4 linked regions of the Homo sapiens genome follow. The protein of the gene in region 3 interacts with the protein of the main gene of each other region in a biochemical or structural test. Each region holds a gene or a part of one and is shown on either strand. Other genes may lie near its edges. The genes, in order: POLI, GTF2B, GTF2E2 and TBP.

The links.
Region 1: the proteins of GTF2E2 (region 3) and POLI form a complex in vitro, tested with the Homo sapiens proteins (one large-scale study listed by BioGRID).
Region 2: the proteins of GTF2E2 (region 3) and GTF2B form a complex in vitro, tested with the Homo sapiens proteins (one study listed by BioGRID).
Region 4: the proteins of GTF2E2 (region 3) and TBP form a complex in vitro, tested with the Homo sapiens proteins (2 studies listed by BioGRID).

The regions. Positions count from the first base shown.
Region 1 is NC_000018.10:54,272,506-54,278,803, reverse strand, and holds part of POLI (DNA polymerase iota isoform a (long)), read right to left. Parts: intron 4,879-6,298; coding exon 4,714-4,878; intron 1,102-4,713; coding exon 949-1,101; intron 1-948. UniProt on the Homo sapiens protein: Error-prone DNA polymerase specifically involved in DNA repair. Plays an important role in translesion synthesis, where the normal high-fidelity DNA polymerases cannot proceed and DNA synthesis stalls. Favors Hoogsteen base-pairing in the active site.
Region 2 is NC_000001.11:88,860,568-88,868,441, reverse strand, and holds part of GTF2B (transcription initiation factor IIB), read left to right. Parts: intron 1-4,327; coding exon 4,328-4,461; intron 4,462-7,874. UniProt on the Homo sapiens protein: General transcription factor that plays a role in transcription initiation by RNA polymerase II (Pol II). Involved in the pre-initiation complex (PIC) formation and Pol II recruitment at promoter DNA.
Region 3 is NC_000008.11:30,607,841-30,615,714, forward strand, and holds part of GTF2E2 (transcription initiation factor IIE subunit beta), read right to left. Parts: intron 6,876-7,874; coding exon 6,768-6,875; intron 4,642-6,767; coding exon 4,459-4,641; intron 1-4,458. UniProt on the Homo sapiens protein: Recruits TFIIH to the initiation complex and stimulates the RNA polymerase II C-terminal domain kinase and DNA-dependent ATPase activities of TFIIH. Both TFIIH and TFIIE are required for promoter clearance by RNA polymerase.
Region 4 is NC_000006.12:170,562,282-170,570,155, reverse strand, and holds part of TBP (TATA-box-binding protein), read right to left. Parts: intron 5,612-7,874; coding exon 5,524-5,611; intron 3,239-5,523; coding exon 3,147-3,238; intron 545-3,146; coding exon 377-544; intron 1-376. UniProt on the Homo sapiens protein: The TFIID basal transcription factor complex plays a major role in the initiation of RNA polymerase II (Pol II)-dependent transcription.

The sequences.
Region 1 (6,298 bases), on a different chromosome or scaffold from region 3:
ATGTGGTATGATAGGGGAGTCACCAGCAGAGTCATAAGATGTCTGAAAGCCTAATCAGATATTCACTGGTGCTTACTGCAGCTTATTTTCAAATGTAAATATCACTGGAAACACCATCAGTCATTCATATCTCAATATATGAAGGAGACAAACCATTCTGCTTTCTTGCTAACTTTGACAAAGATTATTTGAACAGATTAAATAGGAGCTTGGAGAAGATTCTAGCACATGGCAGATAGCCCTGGACAACATTCCAAAAGTGCTAACTTGGGAATTCAGAGAGCAACATGAGGGTCTCAGGGGAATCGAAGTGAACATGTAAAACACACATCAAAGGGGAATCGAAGGGAACATGTAAAAGACACATCAAAGGCAAATCTAGCCTACCTGAAAACTCTGCTTAGAGATTGTTTTAGAATAATAAAAAATTATTCCAAAAAGCATATTAAGAAGCCAACTCTTACAACTTAAGAATGACCTACAGAGGTATGGCTTTTTGTTTCCTTAAGAGATGGGATCTTGCTCTGTTGCCTAGGCTGGACTCAAACTCCTGGGTTCAAGCAATCTTCTCAGCTCAGTCTCCCAAACAGCTGGGACTACAGGGGCGCTCCACTGTGCCCAGCTGGGTATGGCTTTCTAAAATGGGAACCAATGCACTGTGTCAGACGAAAACTCTGCACAGATGAATGCTCTGTGCAGATGAACAGGAACAATGCTCTGTGCAAATGAAAAGTGCACAGAGCATTGAGCTACATGTCATCAAAATCTTAACACTTATTATGGAATAGCAGCACCTAATTTTAGCTGTCCTAGACAGATTACTGACTAAATATAACTATACCTCCAACAAAAGTCATGAATCTTTCAGAATCACACAGCGAACTCACTGAACATTAAGAAATGTATGTACTTTTGGTTAGTAGGTAGAATGAATAAGAACCCACTCACACTGATTATTGTATACATGACCCGACACAGTCACCGCAGAAAGTTCATCACTTTGCAGCTGCTGTAGTCTCTTCTCAACCATTTCTGTTAGATCCACAAAATTTTCATCAAATCCAAGTCTCTCAACAACTGGACTAAATTCTTCCAGTAATTCTAAATTGAAATAATATTGGAGCACAAATGTAAATGAAGTTATAACTAGGATAAATTTAACTATCTAGTGCTTAAAAATTTATCAAATTTATTGTTAAAGGTTTTATATACATTCATAGTTCCATAATATCTTTAATAAAGCCCTCAGTTAATTGACGTTTTTTCTGTACCACATCTTGTATAAAGGCAATATTTTCAAAAAAGTCTAAAAATGACATTCCTAGGGCAGTTATTCATGGCAATATATCTAGCTCAATCTTCTACACCTATAATTTTTATATCTGTAGTACATTAAATATCAATGCTTATAGTAAATTGGTGACCTTGAAGAAATGTGTCAAAGAATAAACTATAGGCTGCTCAGGAAAGTTAAAAACAAGTAATAGTATATTTTAGCTATATTTTCTCCAAGAGTTTAAAAGAGGCAAAACAAAATAATATTTAAAATGTCCAATTATTACTGAATAAAACAGAAAGTCAGTCAACTTTCAAAATATACTATAACGTGGTATTTTTATTAGCCATTCCCAAGAATATTCCTTAGGACAGAGAGGCAGAGATGAACCACAACTTACAGGTATTCAAATGCCCAGCGTCTAGCACAATATCTAGTCCTCAAGTCAAATGTTTACTAGATTAAGCTGAACCAAAATTCAAAATAAATTCAAAAAAACTATCAATTTTCATATATTAACATTGAGACTAATAACTTTAAAATCATTGAGAAAGTTTTTCACTTCCCTCTGAATCACTTTCTACTGACACCAGCTGGATAAGAGAAAACAAATGCAAGTCTCTTAGTATACAAAAATGCATAGATTCTTAAGGTCATATAATCTGAAGCTCAGAAATAAAAGGACTATCTCATTCCACATAGATCATGTTTTTTCACAAACACCAAAGGTGCTTTTTTGTTTTGTTGATGTCAACATTGACAATGTGAGGGGAAACCAATAAAGGTAACAATGTGACATGGCAAACACCAAAAATCACTCCTGAGAAAACTATTACCTAGAGAAAACTATTACCTCCTTTCAGGACAGACTGACAATATGTCTAATCAAAGAAAATGATTGTTTTGCATTTCCTTCATCAATTTCGGCAATTTATTTTCAAAAGTATATACCTGATATGCAAAGTAACATGTAGAAAACAAGAGTTTATCAAAAGAATACTACATAAGAAAAATAAAGGATAAGGCTTTAAGCACTAAATAGAAAAGCAAGTTAAATACAGAATCATGCACGAAGCTGGTGGATCACTAAATATTGACTGATTTTAGGTCACAGGACAAATCCCTAATTATCCCGTCCCTGAAGGTTTTTGTTGTTGCTGTAGTTTTAATGAGACAGGGTCTCACTGTTGCCCAGGCTGGAGTGGAGTAGCACACCACAGCTCAGTACAGCCTTGACCTCCTGGGCCCAAGCAATCCTCCTACCTCGGCCTCTGGGACTGCAGGCACATGCTACCAGCTAACTTTTTTTTTTTTTAACTTTTGTAGAGACAGGGTCTTGCTATGTTATATTGCCCAGACTGACCTCAAATGATACCCCACCACAGCCTCCCAAAGTGTTGGGATTACAGGCATAAGCCACCATGCCCAGCCTCCATTCCTGAAGTTAACCTCTTTCTTGGTATCAACTTCATAAGCAAGATACATTTATTAAACATATAATTATATAGGGCCCAAAAGAGGAGTCTGTAATTACAGAAAAAAAAAATACCTTGAAGAAAGGTATATATGCAGTAGCATCAAAATATGAAATAAATAATAAGGTTATAAACAGATCAGAGATAAATACAGTAAAGGACTAACTGGCTACGCGCCTACTTCAACTCAGAAAAATACTGTGAGAAAAATTGATAAAGTAACTTTTTTCAAAAAATACCTAACACAAAAAGTACTAGGTACTTAGTACTTAGAAAAAGATGAACAACCCAAATTAAAAACAGGTGCAAGTGAATACGTTAACAGAAAAAAATACATAAATGACCAAAAATATATGAAAAAATACTCAACCTTACTCATGGAAAACTGCAAATCAAAACAATGATTTACTCTTCTTCATCTATATGATGAATATGAGAGGAGGCATTTAGGCCATAATTTTACACATTTGGAAAAACATGATACATGACTTTGTACCTTGCCTTTTATTCACTCAACAAGCCCTATCTCCATCAGTCAAATAGTATTGCACCAATGAATTCTTTTTAATGGCTATATAATATCCATTATACAGATGTTTTAGTTTATTTGGCTATTTCTCTTGATGGGCATTTTTCCTTCCATACTTTTGACAATCATAAACCATGCTATGATAAACATTGTTGTACATATGTCTTTATGTACTTGTGGTTCTCTTTCTTTTTTAGAGACAAGAGTCTCACTCTGTCATGCGCACTCAGGCTGCAATGCAATGACACAATCACGGCTCACAGCCTCGAGCTTCTAGGCTCAAGCAATCCTCCTACCTCAGCTCCAAAAGTGCTGGGATTACAGGTATGAGCCACAATACCCAGCCTTATGATTTTATTTCTATTTGATAAACTCCCAGCAATGATATCACTGGATTGAAGAACATTCATCTTTAAACTCAGTAAGTGTTCTTGATACTTTTTTCTCACATTGCTTTTAATTTTGGGCAAGTATGACAGATATAAAATATCTTACTAATTCAAATTTCCTTGGCCACTAATGAATTTGAGCATTTTTTCCCTATAATTGTTAGACACTGGGTTAGGCTCTTCTTGTCAACTGCCTATTCATATCCTTTGTCCTTTGTTATTAGGTTTATTTTTCCTGTTAATTTCTAAGAGGTCTTTGTATATTATAGACATTTAATCCAGTCATCTGAAAATTGCTATCATAAAAGAAAAACAAAAAAAGTAAAAAAGACAAATAATTGCAAAGCTGATCATTATACATTTTTACACTATATATTAAGTAATTGCGGTTTTCGCAATTAAAAGTAATTGTGAAAGCCACAATTACTTTTGCATCAACCTACTATATTTGCAATGTGCCAGTGCACACTCATTTTCATTTTTCCTGTAATTTACTATAACACTAAGATTTAAACCCAAACCTTAGCATAGGAAAGTTTAGCTACATTGTAATATTTAGTATATATATAAAACCTAAGAAAATATTAATATATCCAATATTTTTATTAATATTTCATAAGAAATCAGTTTTTAATTATGTTGATCAAATGTTACAGAAGCCTCTTTCAATTATCATTAGTGCATTAGAAAACAACATATTTCTTCGTAATTCATTTAAACTTAAAATTTTAAAGACCTGGCATCTTTTACAGTACAGTTTCCCATTTTCTCACTTTTAAACTTTGTTTTCCACTTTTCCCTGTTATATAAACATCAATAATAAGAGTTAAAATTACTTCCAACTATACATCTTCTTAAAAATACTATTCATAGCATACAGTTATCCTTTCACATAATTTTTAAAGTTGACAAGACCCAAAATAAGAAGTTATTAGGAAAAAGCATCTTGACTTATGTTATTTTACATTTATTAAAAAATTCATGTAATGAACAGGCATCCTACATAAAAATTAATGCTAAAAGTACATTGCTTATCATTTGTACCTGTAACCTTATAAGACATTTCTCTGTAGCGGGTCAGGTCTTCTCCATTAACTAATACCAACTGTGGACACTTTTCTTTTGCATCTCTGACATTCATAAGTTTCTTAACTCCAAGTTTCCTAGCTTCATAGTTGCAGGTAACCACCAAATATTTCTGTTGAACCCCTGTAAAAAATATTTTATGAGAAACCCAAGCACAATTGAAGAAAACATTTAAAGATATTATTAATTCCGTATTACATTTGTCTAAATTGTAAGACAATCAGTTTTGATAAGAATCAAAAGCCCTGTCTCAATTAAAAAACATAGCCTCCATATATCAAATCTCTATAATGCAGAAACATTAGGTTTTCAAGCTATCTCCTAATTATGAATTATAATATACCAATGTATTATTTTTCCATACCCCACTTTTAATCTCTAGTTGTTTTGTCTCCTTGAAGAAGGAAAGTTATTATTAAATAACAAAACACTGAATAACACAGAATTAAAAGTTAGACGATAGATCAATTATTCATATACAAAAGGCAATCTATGTATTACATTTCTAAAATTTAAAAATGAACCTAAATCAATATATTCTATGGAATCTTCAGTGATAAGATACAAATCAAATCTCTCTAGGATTTTTTTCCAGACAATATAAAAGCAGATTAATTTATACTGCCATATAATAGGGCATGTTCTACCAAAAAAAAAAAAAACGGATGAAAATAATTGAGTACAACTAAATACTGGTTGCTGCTAGAAAAACTCAACTTCTCTTCTCCGTAACTTGCTAATATAAAGCAATATAAAATATAATATGTATATAAAATATATAAAACAAGTGCTGGGCTACAGCAATTTTTAGGGATCTAACAGTTATGTACTACTTATTGAACTGTTCTATCAAAAATGATTAAATTATGATCATTTATTTACAGACTGCATAAAAAATTCTAGTTTATTGGTGACTCAAGATTGCTAAAAATTATTTGCTCTTTTTTTATACAAGTTGACTACTTGCTTACCACTGTAAGAGTAATGTTCACCTAAAATATGTAAAATACAAACATGTAGAAAAAAAAGGTTATGTCCACTTCTCTATTAGACATTGTTTCTAAAATTTTGATATCATAAACAACATTATTTTTATATAAAGTTTTTTCATATATCAGGTAATGCCCAAAAATATAATCATGGAACCAAAGGTAATAATAATTTGAGATTCCTCAGTGAACTACATAAAAAATCAGATTGCTAGATTTCTTAACTAAAAAAAGGAGTCCTTTAATAGAGCATTACATTATATGGCCTCATCACTGCATGTCACTACTGGTCGGGCACGGTGGCTCACGTCTGTAGTCCCCGCACTTTGGGAGGCCAAGGCAGGTGGATCGCCTGAATTCAAGCATACGAGACCACCCAGGGCAACATGGTGAAACCGTCTCTACTAAAAATACAAAAAAATTAACCGAGTATGGTGGCGCACACCTCTAGTCCCAGCTACTTGGAAGGCTGAGGCAGGAGAATCACCTGAGCCCCAGAGGCAAAGCTTGCAGTAAGCCAAGATCGCACCACTGCACTGCAGCTTGGGCTACAG
Region 2 (7,874 bases), on a different chromosome or scaffold from region 3:
AAAGGTCACACTCTAGGTGGAGGGAGGAGTCGTGCATATATATTATAGTAGTGTAAGTTTTCTTTGATACTATAAATCTTCACATAGACTACAGTGTGTGGTTAAGAAGGAAACTAGTGGAAATTCATATGTGTCTCTGTTTCTAGAACACTAAAGGATATGTGAAGTTTTGTGTATTTGCTAATTGGCTGGCTGCTTCCTTTTCAAAAGTTGACTATAGATTATACCCAGGCATGGCTGCCTTGTACCACTTAGCCCTTGAAAAAGTTTTGTCTCGCAGCTTTCTTCCAGAGCAACTTTTAAAAATACTACTCCATTTAGATTTTCTTCAAATGAAAATTCTTTATGTGTTCTAATTTTTTCTGAATGGACTTGCCCTGTTTCTTGTTACTCATGCACTTAATCTGCTGGACTAGTTGTAGTTGCATGGTATGCTAAATGAGTTGTTTTGGAAACTTCATTCCTTGTGAATGCTCTTTTGAGTAGTTAAATATAAAAAGAGGGAATGGTTCTTAGCACAAACCACAGATTCTTGAACGAGTCATTTAGATCATTCCTACGTATGTGGAAAAATTACATCACCACCCAGTGTTGCGCTTTCTATTTATACTATACTACCTTAAAATAATCCATTTAAAAAAAATAAAAAATCCATCTTGTCTTTATAAAAACAGTATAAAGCAGGCAGCAAATGAATCTCATGGTAAGGTATTTCAGAAAATGCTATGAAATGAAGCATCTTAGCTAACTAATGGTTTATCTTTAGATTTCTAGAGAGACTTAAAAGATGTGGGCATACCTTCCTGCCTTTTCATTTATGCCATTCTCTTGATACATTCATGTATGTTAATAAAAATATTGCAAGTTATTGATGACATTTGTTGATTTTTTTTAGCTTAAAATTTAGTAACTCTGGGTTTGAAGGCCACGGTTATTTTTGTTCTATGCATGTTTGTGTTTTTATTTTGCCAAATAGGAAAGTTAGATTGTCTTTTCTGTCTTTGGACATAAGTGCATGGGAACACCATGGTATCACTTTAATTGGTGGATGCTATTAAAGGGACTAAATTCTGTCTAAAAATACCATGCTGGTGTTTATGATAAATTTAATGAAAAGAGCTTGTCATGAAACAGGCACAGTATCTAAATTTTAGGAAAACGTAGGTGCATACATATGAACGAAAAACACAGAGCATATATGAAAATATAGTGGTCATTGGGTATTGGGAATGCAGGTAATTTTTTTCTAACGTATCTTTTAGTGAGCAAATATTTTGTAAAAAGGAAGAAAAATTGATCTCTTTAGTGTGATCTCTTTGAGACATGGGCTTGTTGGTGAATAGTACTCACTGCACAGTGGTTTGGTAAGGTTTCAGTGCACAATGACAATTTATGATACTTTTAAGTATCTTTTTAAAATCTGCATAATTCAAACTGCTTCCTAAGTTTAGTGATGTTTATTATGAGGAAGAGGAAACAGATAAATCCTTGTAATGCCATCCATCTAACGCTTTTCTCCTTGTTTCGGGCCACCTGCTCAATGTGTGATGTATTAAAATTGCCTTCTAACTTACTGTCCTGCTTCTGCCTTCCTTGCGTGTTCTCCTTGCATACAGGGATGGCACATGGGAACTCTGCCTCTAATCTCAATCCCTTTGTAATGTGGACACATGGTAGTCCAACTGATAATCCGCTTTTACCTTGGTGATTCAGTTGTTTAAAGAAAAGTTTTTCTGTTGTGCATGGTGGCCCACCCCTGTAATCCCAGCACTTGGGGAGGCCGAGGTGAGTGGATCACTTGAGCCTAGGGGTTCACGACTAGCCTGGGCAACATGGCAAAACCCCATCTCTACAAGAAATACAAAAATTAGCCAGGCAGGCAGTGGTGGTGCATATCTGTAGCTGCTCAGGAGGCTAAGGTGGAAGTATTGCTTGAGCCCCAGAGGCAAAAGCTGCAGTGAGCCAAAATTGCACCACTGTACTCAAACCTGGGCAACAGAGTGAGACCCTGTCTGAAAAAAAGGAAAAGAAAAAAGAAAAATTTTGTCAGAGGCTTCAGAAATGAATCATTCTCTTGAGCATTTGCTTACTTTAGACAGGGTCTCCCTCACCTAGGCTGGAGTGCAGTGGTGTAATCATGGCTCCCTGCAGCCTCAACCTCCTGGGCTCAGGTGATCCTCCCACCTCAGCCTCCCTACAGGCACATGCCACCACGCCCAGCTAATTTGTTTTTGTATTTTTTTGTAGAGACAGGGTTTCACCATGTTGCCCAGGCTGGTCTTGAACTCCTGGGCTCATGTGATTTTCCTGCTTAAGCCTCCCAAAGTGCTAAGATTACAGGTGTGAACCACCATGCCCAGCCTTTTTTTAAATCTATCACTAAGATTATATGATCACTATACTCTGGTTGTTTATGAGCATTTAAATTAATTTTTATATAAAAAATTAAAAAGTTAGCATAGTCTAGGTGGAATTCCTTCCGTTTTCTCTGTTCTTTGCTGTCCTCCTGATCAAATACTTAGCGGAGCACTTGGAAGCTTTTAAAGTCTTCTATGGAGATTAATTTTTGTTTGTTTGTTTGTTTTGTTTTGTTTTTTTTTTGAGATGGAGTTTCACTCTTGTTACCCTCTTGTTGCGATCTCAGTTCACCACAGCCTCCACCTCCCAGGTTCAAGCAGTTCTCCTGCCTTAGCCTCCTGAGTAGCTGGGATTACAGGCATGTGCCACCACGCCCAGCTATTTTGTATTTTTAGTAGAGACAGGGTTTCTCCATGTTGGTCAGGCTGATCTCAAATTCCCAACCAGGTGACAGCCCGCCTGGACCTCGCAAAGTGCTGGGATTACAGGCATGTGCCACCATGACCAACTAATTTTGTATTTTTAGTAGAGACGGGGTTTCTCCATCTTGGTCAGGCTGGTCTCAAACTCCTGACCTCAGGTGATCCGCCTGCCTCGGCCTCCCAAAGTGCTGGGATTACAGGCCTGAGCCACCACACCCGGCTGGAGATTAATGTTTTAAACTGATGCGTCTCCCTTATCATCCCCACAAAAAAGGAGAAACTCAGAATATTTGCTATCTTTCTAATTTTCATAGCAGTAAATAGTGAATATTGAGCACTTAGTACTACTTTTTAAGCACTTTACATGCACTGTACATGGGTATTATAATAGCTTAGTCTTTATAATCTTTAAAATATGAGGTTAAAGAGAATTTTAGAGCTGAGGTAATAAAGACATAGAAATGAAGTAATATTCCAAGGCTAAGCAGCAAAGGGCAGAGTTCACACCCCTGACTATTATATTAATTGACTGCTAGTACCGTAACTTCTAATTGCTACAGTAACTGGTTTCTGCCGTTTGTTTCTTTCTGTTTGCTGTGTATACACAAAGATGAAATGGTCTGGTTCCTTCCTACTTTCAGCTTCATCACACTTCACTGAAAAAGGTCATGTTTTACAATTGGAGTGTAGAACAAACTCTGATGTGCGTTTCAGTTCTAGCTATGTGATCTTAGGCTAGTTAATCTTATTTGTAAAGTGGCAATAAAATTGGTACCTACCTTTATAAGGCTGTGAAGATTAAGTGAGAACATTTACAAAAGGGCACAGTGAGTAGTATGTGTTAAGTATTCAGTGTTAACTTTTGTCTACTCTGAAGGTATTGCCAGACATTGAGCTTTCTCACCAAAACAGTAATAATAAGGTTTACTTGTGTCTGCTTTTATTGGACATGATATATTTAGATGCTGCCTCTTTGCTTAAAGAGAAAAGTTTGCCTACCAGGCTTTCTTCTCACGGATTCTAGGCTTGAGGTTTATTCTGTATAAATTATTTGGCCAGGTATGTTTTTCATCAGATTGTTACTTTGAAACAGAAGCTTAGGCTTATTTTCTGCGAAGCATTTCCCACGCAAACTTAGTGACATTTTAATATGAAATTATTTGCATTAATACCATTCTAAAAAATGTTTTCTCTTTTTTTCCCATGCCTATTGCAAATTTTGTGCAAAATCTGGTTCTTAATCATTATTACATTGGTTTACCTTTGCATCACATATGAATAGCTGTACTTTGCTACTTTTGACTAATACTTTTTCTTCCAAGAGTTAGAATATCATAGCATAATGTTTCAAGAGGATTATTGTTAGATTGGCACAATAGTTAAAGGAATGCTTTAGGACAAATGTCTGAAATGTGATATTTAAGCTTGGTCCTAGATGTCCATGTTGAGATTTCCTGGGAATAAAATGGCTTAGTTGGGCATTGGACAGTGTAGTTAAGTAAACCCTATCTTGACAAAATGATTCAGATATGTGCTTATATTCTTAGGTGACCGGGTTATTGATGTGGGATCTGAATGGCGAACTTTCAGCAATGACAAAGCAACAAAAGATCCATCTCGAGTTGGAGATTCTCAGAATCCTCTTCTGAGTGATGGAGATTTGTCTACCATGATTGGCAAGGTAATAAGTCCATTTGGCAGGAAATACCAATTGCAGAGTGACCATAGACCTGAGAGTTTGGGAACTTTGCAAAAGTATCAGTCACTGCACCAGTGGGGAATCTTGACCTGTCTAATAAGATTTGCCAGTAATATCATTGTGAATGATGGCTAACTTGTGTGTGTATTCCATCTTAAAGTGGGGAAGACCATTAAATCAAAATTATAAAGCCTTTATATCAGGCCTTTTTTCATAAATGACATTTTCTGTACACACAAAAAATGAGTGTAGTGTGGCCTTCATGAGTTAATATTGATATGTTCTTTGAATATCAAGAATGTCTTCTCAGCTGGGCATCATGGCTCACACCTGTGATCCCAGCACTTTGGGAGGCCAAGGCAGGCGGATCACAAGGTCAGGAGTTCGGGACCAGCCTGGCAAATATGGTGAAACCCCATCTCTACTACAAAAAAAAAGGAAAATAGAAAAATTAGCCAGGCTTGGTGGCGGGCACCTGTAGTCCCAGCTTACTCGCGAGGCTGAGGCAGAAGAATTGCTTGAACCCAGGAGGCGGAGGTTGCAGTGAGCCAAGATCGCGCCACTGAACTCCAGCCTGGGCAACAGAGTGAGACTCTGTCTCAAAAAAAAAGAAAAGAATGTCTTCTCTTTTCTCTCTATACCACTTAAGATAAATGGGAGGTTAGTGTAACCTCTTTTCTGATATTAGTGAATTTATGACTTACCTAACTTTACATTCCTTATCTGTAAAATGAGAATAAGAGTACTTATAGAGTTTTTGAGGGTTTCATGAGAATGTATGTAAAGTATTTATATAACATGTATTGTATACTGTGTGCTCAGTCAGTGGTAGCTGCTATCATTGTGTAAGGCAATAGTATAGTTTTCTTGGCAGCCTGATTCTCACTCTGTTATCCGAGTTGGAAGTAATAGTGACGGTATTACTGAGGGCTAATCAAGGAAGTATACACCATTTTATAACTTCATGTATACTATTGCATAGTCTCTTTTTTTTTTTTTTCCAAAAAAGTCTTGTTTAAAATCTGTCTGGCTGGGCACAGTGGCTCATGCCTGTAATCCCAGCACTTTGGGAGGCCGAGGTGGGTGGAGATCAGGAGTTCAAGACCAGCCTGGCCAAGATGGCGAAACCCCGTCTCTACTAAAAATACAAAAAGTAGCTGGGCATGATATGATGGTGGGCACCTGTAATCCCAGCTACTCAGGAGCCTGAGGCAAATAATTGCTTGAACCCGGGAGGCGGAGGTTGCAGTGAGCTGAGATCGCGCGACTGCACTCCAGCCTGGGCAACAGAGTGACACTCTTGTCCAGGCAGGTCTTGAACTCCTGGTCTTCAGCAGTCCTCCCGCCTCAGGCACCCAAAGTGCTGGGATTACAGGCATGAGTTTACCATGCCGAACCCTGTATAGTCTGTTTTGTTTTTGAGACGTTCTAACACTGTCGCTAAGGTGGGAGTGCAGCAGTAGCTTGATCTCGTCTCACTGCAACCTCCACCTCCCAGGCTGAAGCGATCCTTCCACTTCAGCCTCCCAAGTAACTGGGACCACAGGTGTGGGCCACGACACATGGCTAATTTTTGTATTTTTTGTAGAGACAAAGTTTCGCCATGTTGCCCAGGCTTGTCCCAATTCTTGGGCTCAAGTGATCCACCCACCTCGGCCTCCCAAGGTGCTGGAATTACAGGTGTGATCCACCATCCCTGGGCAAGATAGAAATATTTTTAAGCTGCTAGATTTATCACATAATAAATTTCTATGTGTACTTGGGCATATTTCTCAACTTTCTATCTTTTCCTGTCCTGGTCCAGTTAGTCAAATGCCATACAACACTGTTTTAGTATTTAGTAGCACTAGTTTTCCCTCATTGCTCTTTTTCAGCATTTTCTTCGCTAGTCTTTTCCATTTAAAGGTTAAGTTTGTTTCATTTTTTAAAAAAATTTAGGTTTGTTCACTTGCATTTTTTGTACCTTTGGAGTTGATTAAATGATTTTCCTCTTCAGCTCTATTAATATGATGTTTTATGTTATTAGATTCTTTAATATATTTGTGGAACAGTCTCCACTTGGTTGATATTACTGCCTTTTAATACCCTGTTGGATTCTGTTTCCTGTGGGGTTTTTTGGTTTTCTTCTTTTGAGACAGGGTCTCTTTCTGTCACCCAGTCTAGAGTGAAGTGATGTAATCATAGCTAACTGCAGCCTCAAACTCCCAGGCTTAGGTAACCCTCCTGCCTCAGCCTCCTGAGTAGCTGAGACCACAGGCGTGTGCCATCACACTCGGCCTGTTTTGTTTTGTTTTGTTTGAGACAGAGTTTCGCGCTTGTCACCCAGGCTGGAGTGCAATGGCACGATCTCTGCTCACTGCAACCTCCGCCTCCCAGGTTCAAGCGATTCTCCCGCCTCAGCCTCCCAAGCAGCTGGGATTGCAGGCATGTGCCACCACGCCTGGCTAATTTTGTACTTTTAGTAGAGGTAGGGTTTCTCCGTGATCATCAGGCTGGTCTCACACTCCCGACCTCAGGTGATCCGCCTGCCTCAGCCTCCTAAAGTGCCAGGATTACAGGCATGGGCCACTGCGCCTGGCCTGTTTTTTAATATTTAATATTCTCACTGGGGTTTTGGTCAGATTCATTTGCAAATTGACACAGGGAAAATTGGCTTCTTCATAATAAATCTTGTATTCAAAAATTCATAATGCCTTTCCATTTCCTTAGGTATCTTATGTGTCCTTCAGGAGATGTTTGAAAGTTTTCTTCATGAACGTCTCACATGTTTCTCAAGTTTATTTCAAGATTTTTGTTGTTGTTTTAATTGAAAAATTTGCTTTCCTTGTCTTTTAAGTTGGTTGATTGTACTTATGAAGGGTATTGATTTCTATTTATCTTGACCTTGCTGCTTTAATGAATTATTTATAGCAGCTGTTTTTTAGTGATTTTCTTGCATATTCCAGGTGTATAAAGGTACTATCTGCAAATAGTTTATCACATCCTTTCCAATTTTGTACTTCCGGTTTTTCTCTTGCTTAATACTATTGGCTAGTTTTTCCAATCAGTGTTACAAAATGGTAGCAGTAGGAGGTACCTTTGTCTTGTGATTTTGGTGATAATGCTGGTAATGTTTCTCCATTAATCATAGTACTTTCTTTGGGCAGAGGAGAGTGGTTTTCTAATGTAAAGAAGTACTCATTTGTAGCGTCCTATGAGTTTTTATCAAAGACGAATTTTGATTTTGTTCATTTGCCTTTTTAGCGTCTTTGGAGATGATCATGATTTTTCTTCTTACATCTATTAATATAATGTTTTACATTATTTGATTCTCTAATATCTTGTGGAACAATCTCTAGTTGGTCATGATATACTACCTTTTAATATGCTGTTGGATTCTGTTTTCTAGTATTTAA
Region 3 (7,874 bases):
TTATTTCCAATTGTGCTTTTAAAACGCTAAAATAATAAGAAAATAGAAGAATGATTAAATCACCTAGAAATGTGATGCAATAGTGAAATACATGGGCATCCTTCAGTTTTCTTACTGCATTGCCCAAAGGATTACATTACTCCTTTTCAAGAGATATAAAAGATTGGAAGAGTCTTCTTGTTGTCTTTTAACTTTCATTGAGTACACCTGACAAAAAAAATTTTGTATTTTCTACCCTTGAGAGCAAAGACAAGAAAACTGACCAAAGACATTTCACAATTATTAGATGAATCAAAATATGAATGCAAAAAGCCAAATAGCAGCACTCTAGACTATCTGGCAAAAATTCATCATAGGAATAAAGTCTCAAGCTATGGAGTCTTTAGATGACAATAACTCAAGTGAAGATTCTCAAGCTTAAGAATCAACAAGCGAACAAAATGCTTCTCAATACAAAATGGAAACAATATTCTCATCCCGTTATTCACCAGAAGATTATCACACAGTATTTTGTGAAAAGAATCTTTATCATCTCACTTTGCTAAAAGGATATATGACAGTATTCTTCTTTTTGATGTGTTTTCCAAAAATTACTTGATACAGAAGTTTGCTGTGTTAAATTCTTACTAAAATCTCTAATAAAGCTGTTTTCATCATCCCATTATTCTTACTTATGTAAATTATTCATAAAATGACTTAAAGTAGCTTAAAAATAATAGTCCACTAGATCAAGGTGGTAAAAGGTGATAACTACAGGATGAGCAACCCAAATCCCAAAATCTCGAATCCAAAATCCAAAACTTTTTAAGTGCTGACATGACATGCCAAAGAAATACTTACTGGGGGCCAGGTGTGATGGCTCACACCTATAATCCCAGCACTTTGGGAGGCAGGAGGATCATTTGGGGTCAGGAGTTTGTTTGTTTTGAGACGGAGTCTCACTCTGTCAACCAGGCTGGAGTGCAGTGACGCGATCTTGGCTCACTGCAAGCTCCGCACGGTGGCTCACGCCATTCTCCTGCCTCAGCCTCCCGAGTAGCTGGGACTACAGGTGCCCGCCACCACGCCCGGCTAATTTTTTGTACTTTTTAGTAGAGACAGCGTTTCACCATGTTAGCCAGGACGGTCTCAATCTCCTGACCTCGTGATCCACCCGCCTCGGCCTCCCAAAGTGCTGGGATTACAGGCGTGAGCCACTGCACTCGGCCGAGGTCAGGAGTTTTGAGACCAGCCTGGTCAACATGGTGAAACCCCATCTCTACTAAAAATAGAAAAATTAGCTGAACACGGTGGCAGGTGTCTGTAATCCCAGCTACTTGGGAGGCTGAGACAGGAGAATCTCTTAAACCAAGGAGACAGAGGTTGCAGTGAGCTGAGATCACCCCACTGCACACCAGCCAGGGCAACAGAAAGAGACTCCGCCTCAAAAAAAAAAAAAAAGAGAAAGAAAGAAAGAAAGAAATACTCACTGGAGCATTTTGGATTTCAGATTTTCAACTCTGGAATGTTTAAACTGGTATAATGAAAATATCCCAAAATTTGAAAAAAATCCCAAAATCTGAAACAGTTCTGGTCCCAAGCATTACAGATAAGGGACAGTCAAATTGTACATACATAAAATAAATGAAAGAACCTGAAGGCATTGCTAAAAAAAATTAAAGACATGAATAAATGAATTCTGTGCTCATGTATTAAAAAACTTAATACAGTTACGATGGCAATACTACCCAAAGTTACCTATTCAAGGTAATCCCTATCAAAATCCCAATGGCATTTTTTGCAGAAATGGAAAAATCCATCCAAAAATTTATATCAAATCTCAAGGGACCTCAAAAAGCCTGAAATGGTTTAGATCTGTGTCCCCATCAAATCTCATGTCAAACTGTAATCCCCAATGTTGGAGGTGGGGCCTGGTGGGCGGTGACTGGTATGAAGGTGGATTTCCCTCTTGGTGCTGTTCTCCTGATAATGAGTTCTCATGAGATCTGGTCATTTAAAAGTGTGTGGCACCTTCCCCACTCTCTCTTGCTCCTGCTCCGGCCATGTAAGATGAGCCTGTTTCCCCTTCACCTTCTGCCATGATTATAAGTTTCCTGAGACCTCCCCATAAGCTGAGTAGACACCAGCATCATGCTTCCTGGAGAGCCTGCAGAACTGTGAGCCAAATCAATCTCTTTTCTTTATAAATTATCCAGTCTCAAGCATTCCTTTATAGCATTGCAAGAATAGACTAATACATAGCCAAAACAATCTTGAAAAAGAACAAAATTGGTGATCTCACTCTTACTGATTTCAAAATATATTACAGAGCTACATTAATCAGGCCAGGTGCAGTGGCTCACACCTGGAATGCCACCACTTTGGGAAGCCGAGGGTGGGCAGATCACTTGAGGTCAGGAGTTCGAGACCAGACTGGCCAACATGGTAAAACCACATCTCTACCAAAAATAAAAAAATTAGTTGGGTGTGGTGGTGTGTGCCTATAATCCCAGCTAATCAGGAGGCTGAGGCAGGACTACTGCTTGAACCTGGGAGGCAGAGGTTGCAGTGACCCAAGATTGCATCACTGCACTCCAGCATGGGTGACAGTGTGACTCTGTCTCAAAAAAAAAAAAAAAAAAAGGCTACATTAATCAAAACATTGTAGTGCTGGCATGAAGAAAGACATACAGGCAGAATAGAGGGCCCAGAAATAAACCTTCACATATATGGTCAAATGATCTTCCACATGAGTACCAAGACTAAGACTATTCAATGGGCAAAGGACGGTCTCTTCATCAAGACACTGAGAAAACTGGATATCCACATGAAAAGGAATAAAGTTGGACTCTTACACCATATACAAAAATTAACTCTAAATACCTAAGACCCAAAACTATAAAACTCCTAGAAGAAAACATAGGACAAAAGCTTCATGACATTAGATTTGGCAGTGATTTAAACATGATACTAAAGGCACAGGCAACAAAATCAAAAATAGACAAGAGTGCAGCAAACTCAGAAACTGGCAAATTAAAGAGCACAATCAACAGAGTAAAATGGCAACCTACAGAATGGGAGAAAATATTTGCAAATCATGTATCTGTTAAGGAATTAATATCCAGAATATATTTTTTAAAACTCCCACAATTCAACAACAAAAACACAATGGAATATTATTCAGCTTTAAAAAGGAAGAAAATCCTGTTGCAAGTACAACATGGATGAACCTTGAGAATATTATGCTAAGTGAAATAAGCCAGTCTTGGAAAAAGATTCCAAGATTCCAAGCAAACGGGCTAAGGCTAGAAGAACAGAAGAGACATATCATATGCTACCTGCTGTAGGGCAGACAAGGTTTGGAGTAACTGCCCACTTAACCACAAAACAAAACAAATAGAAACACTCTTGGGAGGAATGTAACAGAATCCTGAGTCTTTACACATATTAATATAATCCACAAGGTCTAAGACCCAACAGAAATGTATTAGATATATGAAGAAACAGGAAAATATGACCCATAAAAGAGACAGTCAATGCAGACCAGCTCTGAGATGACTCGGCTGTTAGAATAAGAAGAATTTTAAAGCAGCTATAAGAAATCATACTTAAGGGTGTAACAAAAGATACTTGTCACGAATGGAAAAAAAAGAAAACAAAATTCAGCAAAGAAACAGAAACCAGAAGAAAAATTTACAAAGAAAGACTAGAACTGAAAAATACAATTAAAAAATTCACCAACTGGGCTTAACAAGTTGGAAGTGAAGAAGAAAAGTGAGTGAACTTGACAATGGATTAATAGAACAGAAAAAAAATTGAAATAAATAAACAGAGCCTCAGGGACTTGTAGTACAATACCAGAAGATCTGACATGTATAATTCCATTACCAAGAAGAAGAGACAAAGGGGCAAGTTTTCTTCTACAGGCAGCAAAATGAATGAACCTGCTTAACAAGTTAACATTAATAATGAGCAACTGTGACAAATGGAAACAAGCAGCTTTCCCCAGTGAGTTTCAAATTTAAACTGGAAATGTCATCTGTATCAGTAGGACTTTCATAGATAGCCCCTTTAGGACTTCAAAACAGCCAGGTTATTAACCAATGCTTTCATGTTTTAATGCCTCTAGTTCCTCAGGTAAGGAACATCTACTAGTATTATAGAAGACACTCTTATTTACAAACAGAGCTTACAAGAGAAACTCTATTGCCTTTGAGGAAAATTTTCCAGAAATAGCCTGAACAATCAAACAATCATATAGTAACAGCAACAAGAACCCGTCAAAGTTACACAGAGATGGCTGCTCCCTTTCCTGCTAGGTGGCACAAGACAAATTTCAAACCTTCAAGTGGCTCACTGTAACCCATGTGTATATAATAGAAGCTTTAAAAACAATTGTAAAATGTTTGATATTTTTAAAACCAAGAAGTCATTATTCATTCAAATTATATTAAGACATAGAAAGAAAAGAGAGATTACCTTGACAGCTTTCTGGGAATTGGGCAGTGCTTCTTCTATGTCTTCTAAAAGAATTCCTCCTAATCCTCGCTGGTCATGCTGATCTAAGAGCCTAAGTAGGGCCTTCTTATCTCTCACGTTGTACTTGGGCTTGAAAGCATACTTCCCATCTATTACTTCAATTTTGGGATTGTTGACTAAAGCCTGTAACAGTGATACAATTGGAATATATTAACAAATGGAACATAAATATATATATATATTTTTGAAACGTAATCTTGCTCTGTCGCCCAGGCTGGAGTGCAGTGGCGTGATCTCAGCTCACTGCAACCTCCGCCTCCTGGGTTCAAGCGATTCTCCTGCCTCAGCCTCCCTCTCCTGCCTCCCTCCCTCTCAGCACCTGGGACTGCAGGTGCGCACCACCACACCCAGCGAATTTTTGTATTTTTAGTAGAGACGGGGTTTCACCACATTGGCCAGGCTGGTCTTGAACTTCTGACCTCAGGTGATCCACCCACCTCAGCCTCCCAAAGTACTGGGATTATAGGCGTGAGCCACTGTGCCCAGCCCATATACACATTCTTAATTCTACTAATTATTTTAAAATACAACACTAGCCAATACAGTGGCAAATTAAAAGTACCTTATGAATACAAACTGGCAGGCCTAAAATCCTGGACATCCAGAATTCCAGAACAGTAGATCAGCACGGTGCTCACTTTTTATAAAAGAAACTGTGTTTTATTTACATAAATTCTTTGAAGAGAAATAAACCATTTTATCACAACTACTTTGAAAAAAGCTGAACCCATATTCTTCTAGTAGTCAAAATGTGTAGGAATCAATAAAACACCTACAAATATTAATAGACAAAGTGAACTGAGTAGTGCCCACTCCATCTGCAAAGTACAGCTTATCACATACTGGCATTATAAAGTAAGGAACATAACCCTTACTAGTCAATGGTCTTCCCCATCTGCTATCAACTGGCAATGGCAGCTGTGGAAGGAACTGAAAAGGACCAGACTAGTGCATACAAGAACTTTACCTATAATGTCAGCTTGAGAATGAAACTGAGTAGGAATGCAGGAATTACTGAATATAATTATGTTTCTAGTCAGTTCTGTTGTACAGTTAGTATCAGAAGGAAAGCTCTTCAAAAAGAGCAACCCTATATATTTTCTTCTGCAGCTGCCAGCCTGACCCTGAAAGGAGAAAGAGAAGAAACACAGAAAGAAGAAAAAAGGGAGAATAGAATAGTAAAATGATCAAAGTCATTGTTAACTAAATGTTGGTAGTCTATGAATTCTCAAGGTTAGCTAAACCAGCAAATTTAAATGTGGATTACCATTGTTTGTGTATCACTAATACAATGAACTACAATTATACTGATTAATGGTCATGTTACATTATAAAAGTCAAGACCTGTATTTTGCTTGGTAAAAAAATAAATGAATTGTATGTTAGGAATTTTACATTTGGTTTCTAGAATCTATCTCTGGTCCTAGAAAGTAGTCTTCTTAGTTTTCACTTCATATTTTAAAGCGGTAAACATTTGAATTTTTAAATGCTATTCATTTCCAAATTAGCATGGTCACTGACTGCGTTGGGGTTTCTTCAAATGATGTGTGTTCATACACAGCATTCGCGACTTTTTTTCCACATCAAGCCATAATAGCAGTAATTGTGCAACAAAATATCTTCCTATCCCTGCAGTACCTTATGCTTTAAATTTCCTAAAACAAAAACAATTCAATTTACAAGCACACAAACTATAAATCTGGCAATACAAAATAAGCATTAATCTGTAAAAACATTAAGTCGAATTGGTACAATGACTTCTTTACAACTATTACACAAAGTCTTACCTTTAACATTTTGAAACAGATAACATAAAATTATATGAAAACCAACAAATCAATCTTATAAATGTGTACATTCAAAAAACAAAGACCCTACACCATTTCTTTTAAGAAAAAGTAAAAAGCATTATCAGATTTCACCATATTAAAACATTCTAGGCAAGGCGCAGTGGCTCATGCCTATAACCCCAGCACTCTGGGAGGCCGAGGTGGGCGGATCACTTGAGGTCAGGAGTTCAACACCAGCCTGGCCAACATGGTGAAACCCCGTCTCTACTAAAAACACAAAAATTAGCCTGGTATCGTGGCACATGCCTGTAGTCCCAACTACTCGGGAGGCTGAGTCAGCAGTGGGCTGAGATCATGCCACTGCACTCTAGCCTGTGCAACAGAGCAAGACTCTGTCTTAAAAAAAAAAGAAAATTCTAGTTACAGGAAATCTCTCTTGATAATCAACTAAATTCTTACCTCAGTCATTAGCCATTGTTTCTGCTTGAGTCCAATATCTAAATGTTGTGTTTCATCCAAAATTTCATCTAAGGTTAGAGGATGCGTATCTCCTCGCTGATGCCGTGTCTATCAAGTGAAGAAATTGTTATTAGAAGACAGTTTCAAAATGCTAGATGCATTAAATCATAGTTACATGTAAACAAACCTTCAGGAATGAAAAACATGTATTATTCCAGGTAGCATAATTATAGTGACGAAGAGCCATAGACCATGAAATCAGAATGGGGTTGAAACTCATTGCTCTATAAAATCAAAAGACAAACTGACAAAAAAATATATGCAACTCGTATCACCAAGAGCTATATTCTTCCTAACATTTCAAGAGCTTCAAAAAACTAACAAAATAGACCAGGCACAGTGGCTCATGGCTGTAATCCCAGCACTCTGGGGGACTAAGGCAGGTGGGATCACTTCAGGTCAGGTGTTCGAGACCAGCCTGGCCAACATGGTGAAACCCCATGTCTACTAAAAATATAAAAATCAGCCGTGCATGGTGGTGCATGCTTGTAATCCCAGCTACTTGGGAGGCTGAGGCAGGAGAATCGCTTGAACCTGGGAAGAGGAGGCTGCAGTGAGCTGAGATCATGCCACTGCACTCCAGCCTGGGAGGCAAGAGCAAGACTCTGTCTTGAAAAAACACAAAACTAACAGAAAATGACCCAAAGACAGAAACGCGCAGATTGCAAAAAATGACCTTAAACATAGGAAAAGACACTCAACTTTCACCAAACAATCCTATTTCTAGAAACTTATCCTACAGAAATACCAGTACCACACAGAAAAGTGACTTATGGTCACTGTAGCATTGTTCATAAAAGGAAAATATTAGAAATAACCCAAGCGTCCATATTAGAAGACAGATTAACTACAGCACATCCATTCCACTACACAGATGTTCACAAAGTAAATGTAAAAGTTCTCTATGTGCTAATTTGAAAAGATGTCCAAGACAAATTAATAAGTTAAAAAACATATGTATCATGCCTATCCAAAGAAAACACACACACACACGTAGATACCAAAAGCTAGAGAGGATGCAAAGGAACAGGAGCTGTCATTCATTAC
Region 4 (7,874 bases), on a different chromosome or scaffold from region 3:
ACTTTGCTGGTAGATCTGACACAATGTTGACTAAAAGAGAAGATCCAAACTGGGAAAAAAAATTGATACAAGGTTAGGGTCAATTCATGCATTCCAAGTGTATTCAGCAATAAAACGATAAAACATACAGAAGTAGAATCAAATTCATTCCAGTAAAGGGGAGTTATGGGTACCGCAAAGTGATAAGGGAAGCAGAGGCTGGTGAGGGTGATAAATATGACTGAGAACATCAGGAAGACAATGCAAGAATACATACAACTATAACCATGTCAACTGTTCTCATATACTGAATATTTTGCATGTGTTTTATTCTGAACAATGTTTAGATTATAAATGAACTGTTGCCAATAACAATCATAATACATTTCAGACTTACCTACTAAATTGTTGGTGGGTGAGCACAAGGCCTTCTAACCTTATAGGAAACTTCACATCACAGCTCCCCACCATATTCTGAATCTTGAAGTCCAAGAACTTAGCTGGAAAACCCAACTTCTGTACAACTCTAGCATATTTTCTTGCTGCCAGTCTGGACTGTTCTTCACTAGGGAAAGGAAAAAAGTGAGTTATTCATACTCAGAGCCAGCTAAAATACTTATTTAGACTAATAACTTATAAAAAGTCCAAAACAGTAAACTAATAAAGTGTAAACTGGTCAGCCTTCTTGCAATAGGAGAAAAGACTGACAGGCATTCACAATTCCTTATAAAGTATTCCTGGATCCTTGACAGAAAACTGTAGGCCTGCCAAAATGACCTTTCAATCCGCCAAATTATTGTAGCCCTAGATTTTATGGATGTGAATTATCACCATCATCAGTCATCACTATTTCTGTATTTTAGCCCATGCATTTCTACTGAGAGGAAAACTAACAAACTTCATTTTGATCAGAAAATGTTGATGAGATTTATTATTGAACAATGTATTCACTAATTCTATCCTCTTTTATACCAAGACTCATCATGAATAGACATTCCTATGTCATTTGTTGAATAAACTACGACTTAGCAGTTCAGAGCTTACATAAGAAAAGCAGAATGTGGGCCAGGCATGGTGGCTCACGCCTCTAATCCCAAGCACTTTGGGAGGCCAAGGCGGATAGCTCACCTGAGGTCAAGAGTTCGAGACCAGCTTGGTCAACATGGTGAAACCCTATCTCTACTAAAAATACAAAAATTAGCTGGGCATGGTGCCAGGCACCTGCAATCCCAGCTACTTGGGAGGCTGAGGCAGGAGAATCACTTGAACCTGGGAGGTGGAGGTTGCAGTGAGCCAAGATTGTGCCACTGCACTCCAGCCTAGGTGACTCCACCAAAAAAAAAAAAAAAAAAAAAAAAAAAGAAAAGGAAAGAAAGAAAGAAGAGAAAAAAAGAAAAAATAAAAGAGAAAAAGGCAGGCAGGCAGGTCGGGCACGGTGGCTCACACCTGTAATCCCAACACTTTGGGAGGCTGAGGCAGGCGGATCATGAGGTCAGGAGATTGAGACCATCCTGGCTAACACAGTGAAACCCCATCTCTACTAAAAATACAAAAATTAGCCAGGCATGGTGGTGGGCACCTGTAGTCTCTGCTACTCGGGAGGCTGAGGCAAGAGAATGGCGTGAACCCAGGAGGCGGAGCTTGCAGTGAGCCGAGATCATGCCACTGCACTCCAGCCTGGGCGCAGAGCGAGACTCCATCTCAAAAACAACAACAACAACAAAAAAGAATGTGAAAATATTACCATAAAGAGACTATCAGGTGCAGGGGATCAGGAAGAACAAAAATCAAGCATATATATATATGCTACGCTTTTAAATTTCAGGTAAATGTATTGGTGGTTTCTTGTCTTGATGAAATAGTCATCCAACTACATATACAATATTCAGTTTTCAGATGCTCTGGGACAAAAAGGCTAAATGCTGCATGAAAAGCTTGCCTTGATAAACCAAAAGTTTCTGATGTTCCATGCAGGGGAAAACAAGCAAACAAAAACGCTCTTAATTAAAGAGGTTACTACTGCATGTTGTGGCCAAGGGGAAGTGAAAGGCAAGAACACATCCTTGTCCTGCATTCTGAAAAACCTCGGAGATCAGGAGCCAGAATGTCCACACCAATGGCATTCCCATCACTGAAAGACAATTTCAAACTTCAGAATAAGCAAAAATATCCACAGCCCCCTTCTATGTGTTGATACCTCCAAGTACATTTAATACTCTTTCATTTAAAAAGTTTTAGTTTATTTGTTCAGTTCATTTATGAAGCTAATGTCACTAATTTTCCCCCTAGTTTTTGACTTCTACCAAGTATATAAGCTCTGTTTAGAACAGTCAGGGCCGCAGAGTACTAACCTTCAGACAGGATCACTTCAGATGGAGAATATAGGCAATGACATTTTATAACAAGGGTGCATTCCTTAAGATCTGCACAACTCAAACACTATTAATGAAAGCTAGTTCCAGTGAGAAGGCAGGTTTCTGCAGCCAACACATGTGATGCTGTCACGCTGCCAGGCCCAATAAGGTCTGCAAAGCCCTTACACCATTAGCTTAGAAGTGTTTTAATTCTTGATCAATTTTTTCTTCCATTTCAAGATGTATTTGTGTTATTTACAACATTTTTCACATAAAGGGAATTTTATTAATAGTTCTGATGTTGTATTACATCTTACCTAATTTTTTTCTTTTTTCTGGAGAAAGTGTCTTGTTCTGTCTCCCATGCTGGAGTACAGTAGCATGATCTCAGCTCACTGCAACCTCCACCTCCCGGATTTAAGCGATTCTCGTGCTTCAGCCTCCCAAGTAGCTGGGACTACAGACATCCACTACCACGCCTGGCTAATTTTTGTATTTTTAGTAGAGATGGAGTTTCACCATGTTGGTCAGGCTGGTCTCGAACTCCTGGCCTCAAGTGATTTGCCCGCCTTGGTGAGACACCACGCCTGCCCATATCTAATTTTTAAGAAAATGAAATCACTGCTATCTAACATTAATAGAATCAAATAATAAATAAATAAATAAAAATAATTAATAGAATCATATTAAAATGGTTTTTATAAGAAAGCAATAATAACATGTTAAAGTGCTAACCTAATAACCTAAAAACAATGAGATATCACCTTTTCATTCATAACCCATAGACCAGAAGAATGAATTTCTTACGGCTACCTCTTGGCTCCTGTGCACACCATTTTCCCAGAACTGAAAATCAGTGCCGTGGTTCGTGGCTCTCTTATCCTCATGATTACCGCAGCAAACCGCTACAATGGTCAGAGAGAATCATTAGTGAGGTCATGCCAAACTGCTCAATGTTGTTAGGCGAACCACCCATTGACAAAAAAATCACAACTGGTAGGAAGGACATAGTACATCTAGTTATCAAAATATTTGTTCTGTATTTCTGTATATCTGTAAAGGATTTGCATACACCACATGTAACAAATATTCCTTTGCATAAGGAGCAGAAAATAATCAATTGTGACTAAGTTATACCAAATCTGTATGTTCTTTCACATGAGCATTCCATCAAGAGAAATGTTTGCAAAATTTGGTTATGTTCTCAATAAATACAAGTGCTTCTGTTTCTACTTTATATTTGCTGCTTATCATGACTATAGCTTCTCTGATACATTTTGTTTTATTAATATGAATTTTGAGGCAAATAAACCAATAAACCTTTTCTACCTTAATGGAATTAATAAATCAGATTACAAGCCTATCAATACGTAATGAAGTAAAATCATGCTTTCAATTGGTCTTTAGAAACAATATTAATGTATTAAACACATAAATGCAAATTAGGAAAAAAACACAGTTTTAACTTTTATTTTCTGCTTTTTATGCTTGAAACATGTTAATTCTTTCAGAAAATTTTCTTGCTAAGGTGGTAACTCAAGGGGAAAATATTTCAACTGTGGGTTGAATTAATGGCCTCAGTTATTAGGTACATGATAAAAAGCAAATAATTACTTTGAAACAACTTAAATATTTTAATACATTTAATTATACAATAAAAACCTACATGTTTCTAATTAAGACGACTCTTTGACAAACTAGATTGCTTTAACAATTTTATTTTTTTATTTTATTAATTTTTTTTTTTAGAGACAAGAGTCTCACTTTGTTGCCCAGACTGGAGTGCAGTGGTGCAATCATGGCTCACTGCAGCCTCGAATTCCTGAGCTCAAGAGATCCTTCTGTCTTGGCCTCCCAAGTAGCTGGGATTATAGGTGTGTGCCACCAACCCCAGATAATTTTTTAAATTTTCTGATGAAACAAGGCCTTGCTATGTTGCCCAGGCTCGTCTTGAACTGTTGGCCTCAAGTGATCCTCCCACCTTGGCCTCCCAAAGTGCTGGAATTACAGGTCTGAGTCACCATGCCTGGCTTTTAACAATTTTAGTTTAAAACCTGCTCTATGTCTTCCCTGTGATTTTATCAACATCTAAAAAAGCTAGCAGTATATAGTAGTTTATATACGTCCCAGGAAAAGCCTAGCTATTTTGAATTTCCAGAATTTCCTCTACTATTTTTATTGGTTAAATATCACTTAAGAACGTAAAGTAATAAAATTATGTATTCAACTAAATGTGATTATAATAGATGAAAGATTAATTCTTAGAATGCTACATGTCATACAGACTCATTATGAGTGGTTAAAAGGTGATTTTCAGACCCTTAGCTGTCTTTCAGATCTCAGGCATTATGTTTCAGGGATTTTAAAATGCACCCTAAGTCCATTACTTAACATTTCTCTCAACCCAGCTAATGTTTATCCAAATTACTTTGCCTACTATAGCTGGCTAACATCATCCCTATACATATACAAAATTCTTCACATGATCCCAATACAATACATATATAACTTAGCTTATTTTATAGACTGCTGTACTCCCAGGGATTCTTATATCACAGACACTCAATAAAAGATACAAAACAATGCACATTTTACTTTAGATCTTCATTTTATTGGTGTCAAGGAATAAGCATAACACAAACTCTTTGATATACAGATTTTTTTTTTGAGGCGGAGTCTCGCTCTGTTGCCAGGCTGGAATGCAATGGCGCAATCTCCGCTCACTGCAACCTCTGCCTCCCAGGATCAAGTGATTCTCCTGCCTCAGCCTCCCAAGTAGCCGGGATTACAGGCGCATGCCACCACTCCCGGCAAATTTTTGTATTTTTAGTAGAGACGGGGTTTCACTATGTTGGCCAGGATGGTCTTGAACTCCTGACCTCAGATGATCCGCCCACCTCGGCCTCCCAAAGTGCTGGGATTACACGTGTGAGCCACCAAGCCCGGCCAATTTTTTTTTTTTTTTTAAGAGACAGGGTCTTGCCATGTTGCCTGGGCTGGTGGTGAACTCCTAGGTTCAAGAAATTCTCCTTCCTCAGCCTCCCAAAGTGCTGGGATTACAGGCATTAGCCACTGTGCCTGGCCTGATCTACAGACATTTGTTTTATAGCGTGAAATACATTAAAATATAGAGACACGGCAGAGGAGACAAAAAAGAAAAAAAAAAGAAATACATTAAAATAGATCTAACCTTGGGATTATATTCGGCGTTTCGGGCACGAAGTGCAATGGTCTTTAGGTCAAGTTTACAACCAAGATTCACTGTGGATACAATATTTCTGTAAGAGATTTAAAAAGAAAACACGACTATTTAAATTACTTAAGTTTCATTGGATGAGGCGTTAGAAATTATGCAGACATCTGATTATTTCAACCAGGCTTTACTTTTTTTTAATTGCTCACATTTATTGTTTAACAAGTATCATGCACATGTTGAGCATTTTATATAGATTATTCCATTTAATACATATAACGCACTGAGGTAGAAGTTACCAGTATTCCCACATTTGGATAAATAAGCTGAGGCTTAAAGGTAGAGTGCAACTTGCTCAGGACGCAATGGCTCCCAAGTGGAGGAGCCAGGATTTGAGTCTGTCTGTCTCCAGAGCCTGCCCTTAGCCTTCTCACAGACAAACTCAATTCTCATCTGTGAGCTCTGAAAAGCTACCACCACCACCCTATTCCTAAGTAACTATTTATAATGAAAACAAGCAGGCATGAACTGCCCAGTTCTCTCAAAGTAAGTATCTTTTGAAAAACAAGAGCTAAGTGTCTTTAGCAAAAAAAAAAGGCAAAACCCTGCTTTCTCTTCTAATTAACTCTCAGTAAATAAGGATAAATGGAGCCATCTGGGTCCACTGACCCTTTTCATTTCTCAGTGTTCTTAAATCACTTAACGAATAACTTATACAAGGATAAAGATATACTAAAAAGCAACTCTATTAGAAATTTTAATAAAAATTTAAACAACAAACCCACATTTTCATTATACATTTTTCTGCTTATGAAAGTATATATAGTTGAAATGGGCAATGCCCTTTGAATGCAATTAACTGCTCAACAACTGTCTCGCATGGACCTGGAAATCACCATCCCAAGAATATCGAGTCCAGATTTCAAATACATAGGTTCAAATACAATAGGTTTCAGCTCATTGTTGCTTCTGGTTCTTTTTCTTGTACAGTCTATGATACACAACTGTAAAGCCAATTAGGTTGATCCACACAATGAATGTTTTCATTTCCATATCATCTATTTCCTTCCAATCACCCTTGTATACACACCTGCCTTTAGCATTTGTCCACTTATGAACTATACCAAGTAGATTTTAGTATATCTATCACAACTTTAGTCACATAATTGTTAAATGTATTCTTATATATTTTCATTAATTAAATATTTACCTTAATCCCTCTTAAGCCTACAAGATGGAGAGGGCACTGAACTACCACCCGGGAGGGTTCTTAGTAGATAGTGGAAATTCAGGAATGTGGATGACTGGATGCTCTGGGGAGTATCAGAACAGCAAAGGCACTCGCAAGAAACAAACACCTGACTGTACTGTTTATAATTTATTATTTAAATCAGAAATGCAAACTTAAATATTCCTGGGAGTCAGACAAGCATGCTGGACACATGGGAGTGGTATAGACAAGGGTGAGCTAAAAAGGGCTCTCTCTAAAATCACTAAAATTACTTTGTTTTTAAAATTGTGTGTGGGGTCAAACAAAATTGTGGAGGCAAGATTTAGGTCTTTGGGTGAAAGTCAGCATCCACGATTACACACCACTTAGTTCCAAAAATGATGAGAGATAGCTTATAAACAACAACCATATATGTAACAAGGTGAATAAATGCAAATAGGAAATACTAGATCTAAAGGGAGTATGAAGGAGGAAGGTATCTGTACAAGAAAACTGAGGAGATGCAGAGACTGCAAGTAACCTTTTAATTTGGTCATAAGCTTTCTAAAATGAAAAGCTATACACTTCTTATTGACTGGAATTATTTGGAAATATTTGCTGGTTTTTCAGGAAGATGAAATTATTTCCTACCCCTACTACACTGTTACATATAGAACCCACTTCATTTAGGTAGAAAAATCCATTTATGACAAAAACAGTCGTCTTCATTTTGTGGGAAGGACACAGACCTTCAAAGATTTATATGCAGCACCCATAGTAAAAACAAAAAACAAGAACTACCAGAAATTATACTGATATTGTGACTAAAGACCTAAAATAGCATAAGGGAAAGAGACTACCTAACATTGTGATTTAGCGATATCAGATACAGGGAAATGTCTATAATATAATAATAACGACAGTGAAAGTCAGATTAAATTTTATTGGCTCAGGTATGTAAACACAAATGACCACATTTCTAAACCTGTTAAGAGCCTTTTACTGAGGACACTGACTAAGATAGCTTTGCTTCCCTTTCCCAAATGTGAGATAAAGCAAATTTTGATACACAATTACCGTTAGTGCCACTCCCTCCCTTAATAAAAGGATCCATCTGAAAACAGAGCAGGAACATAAC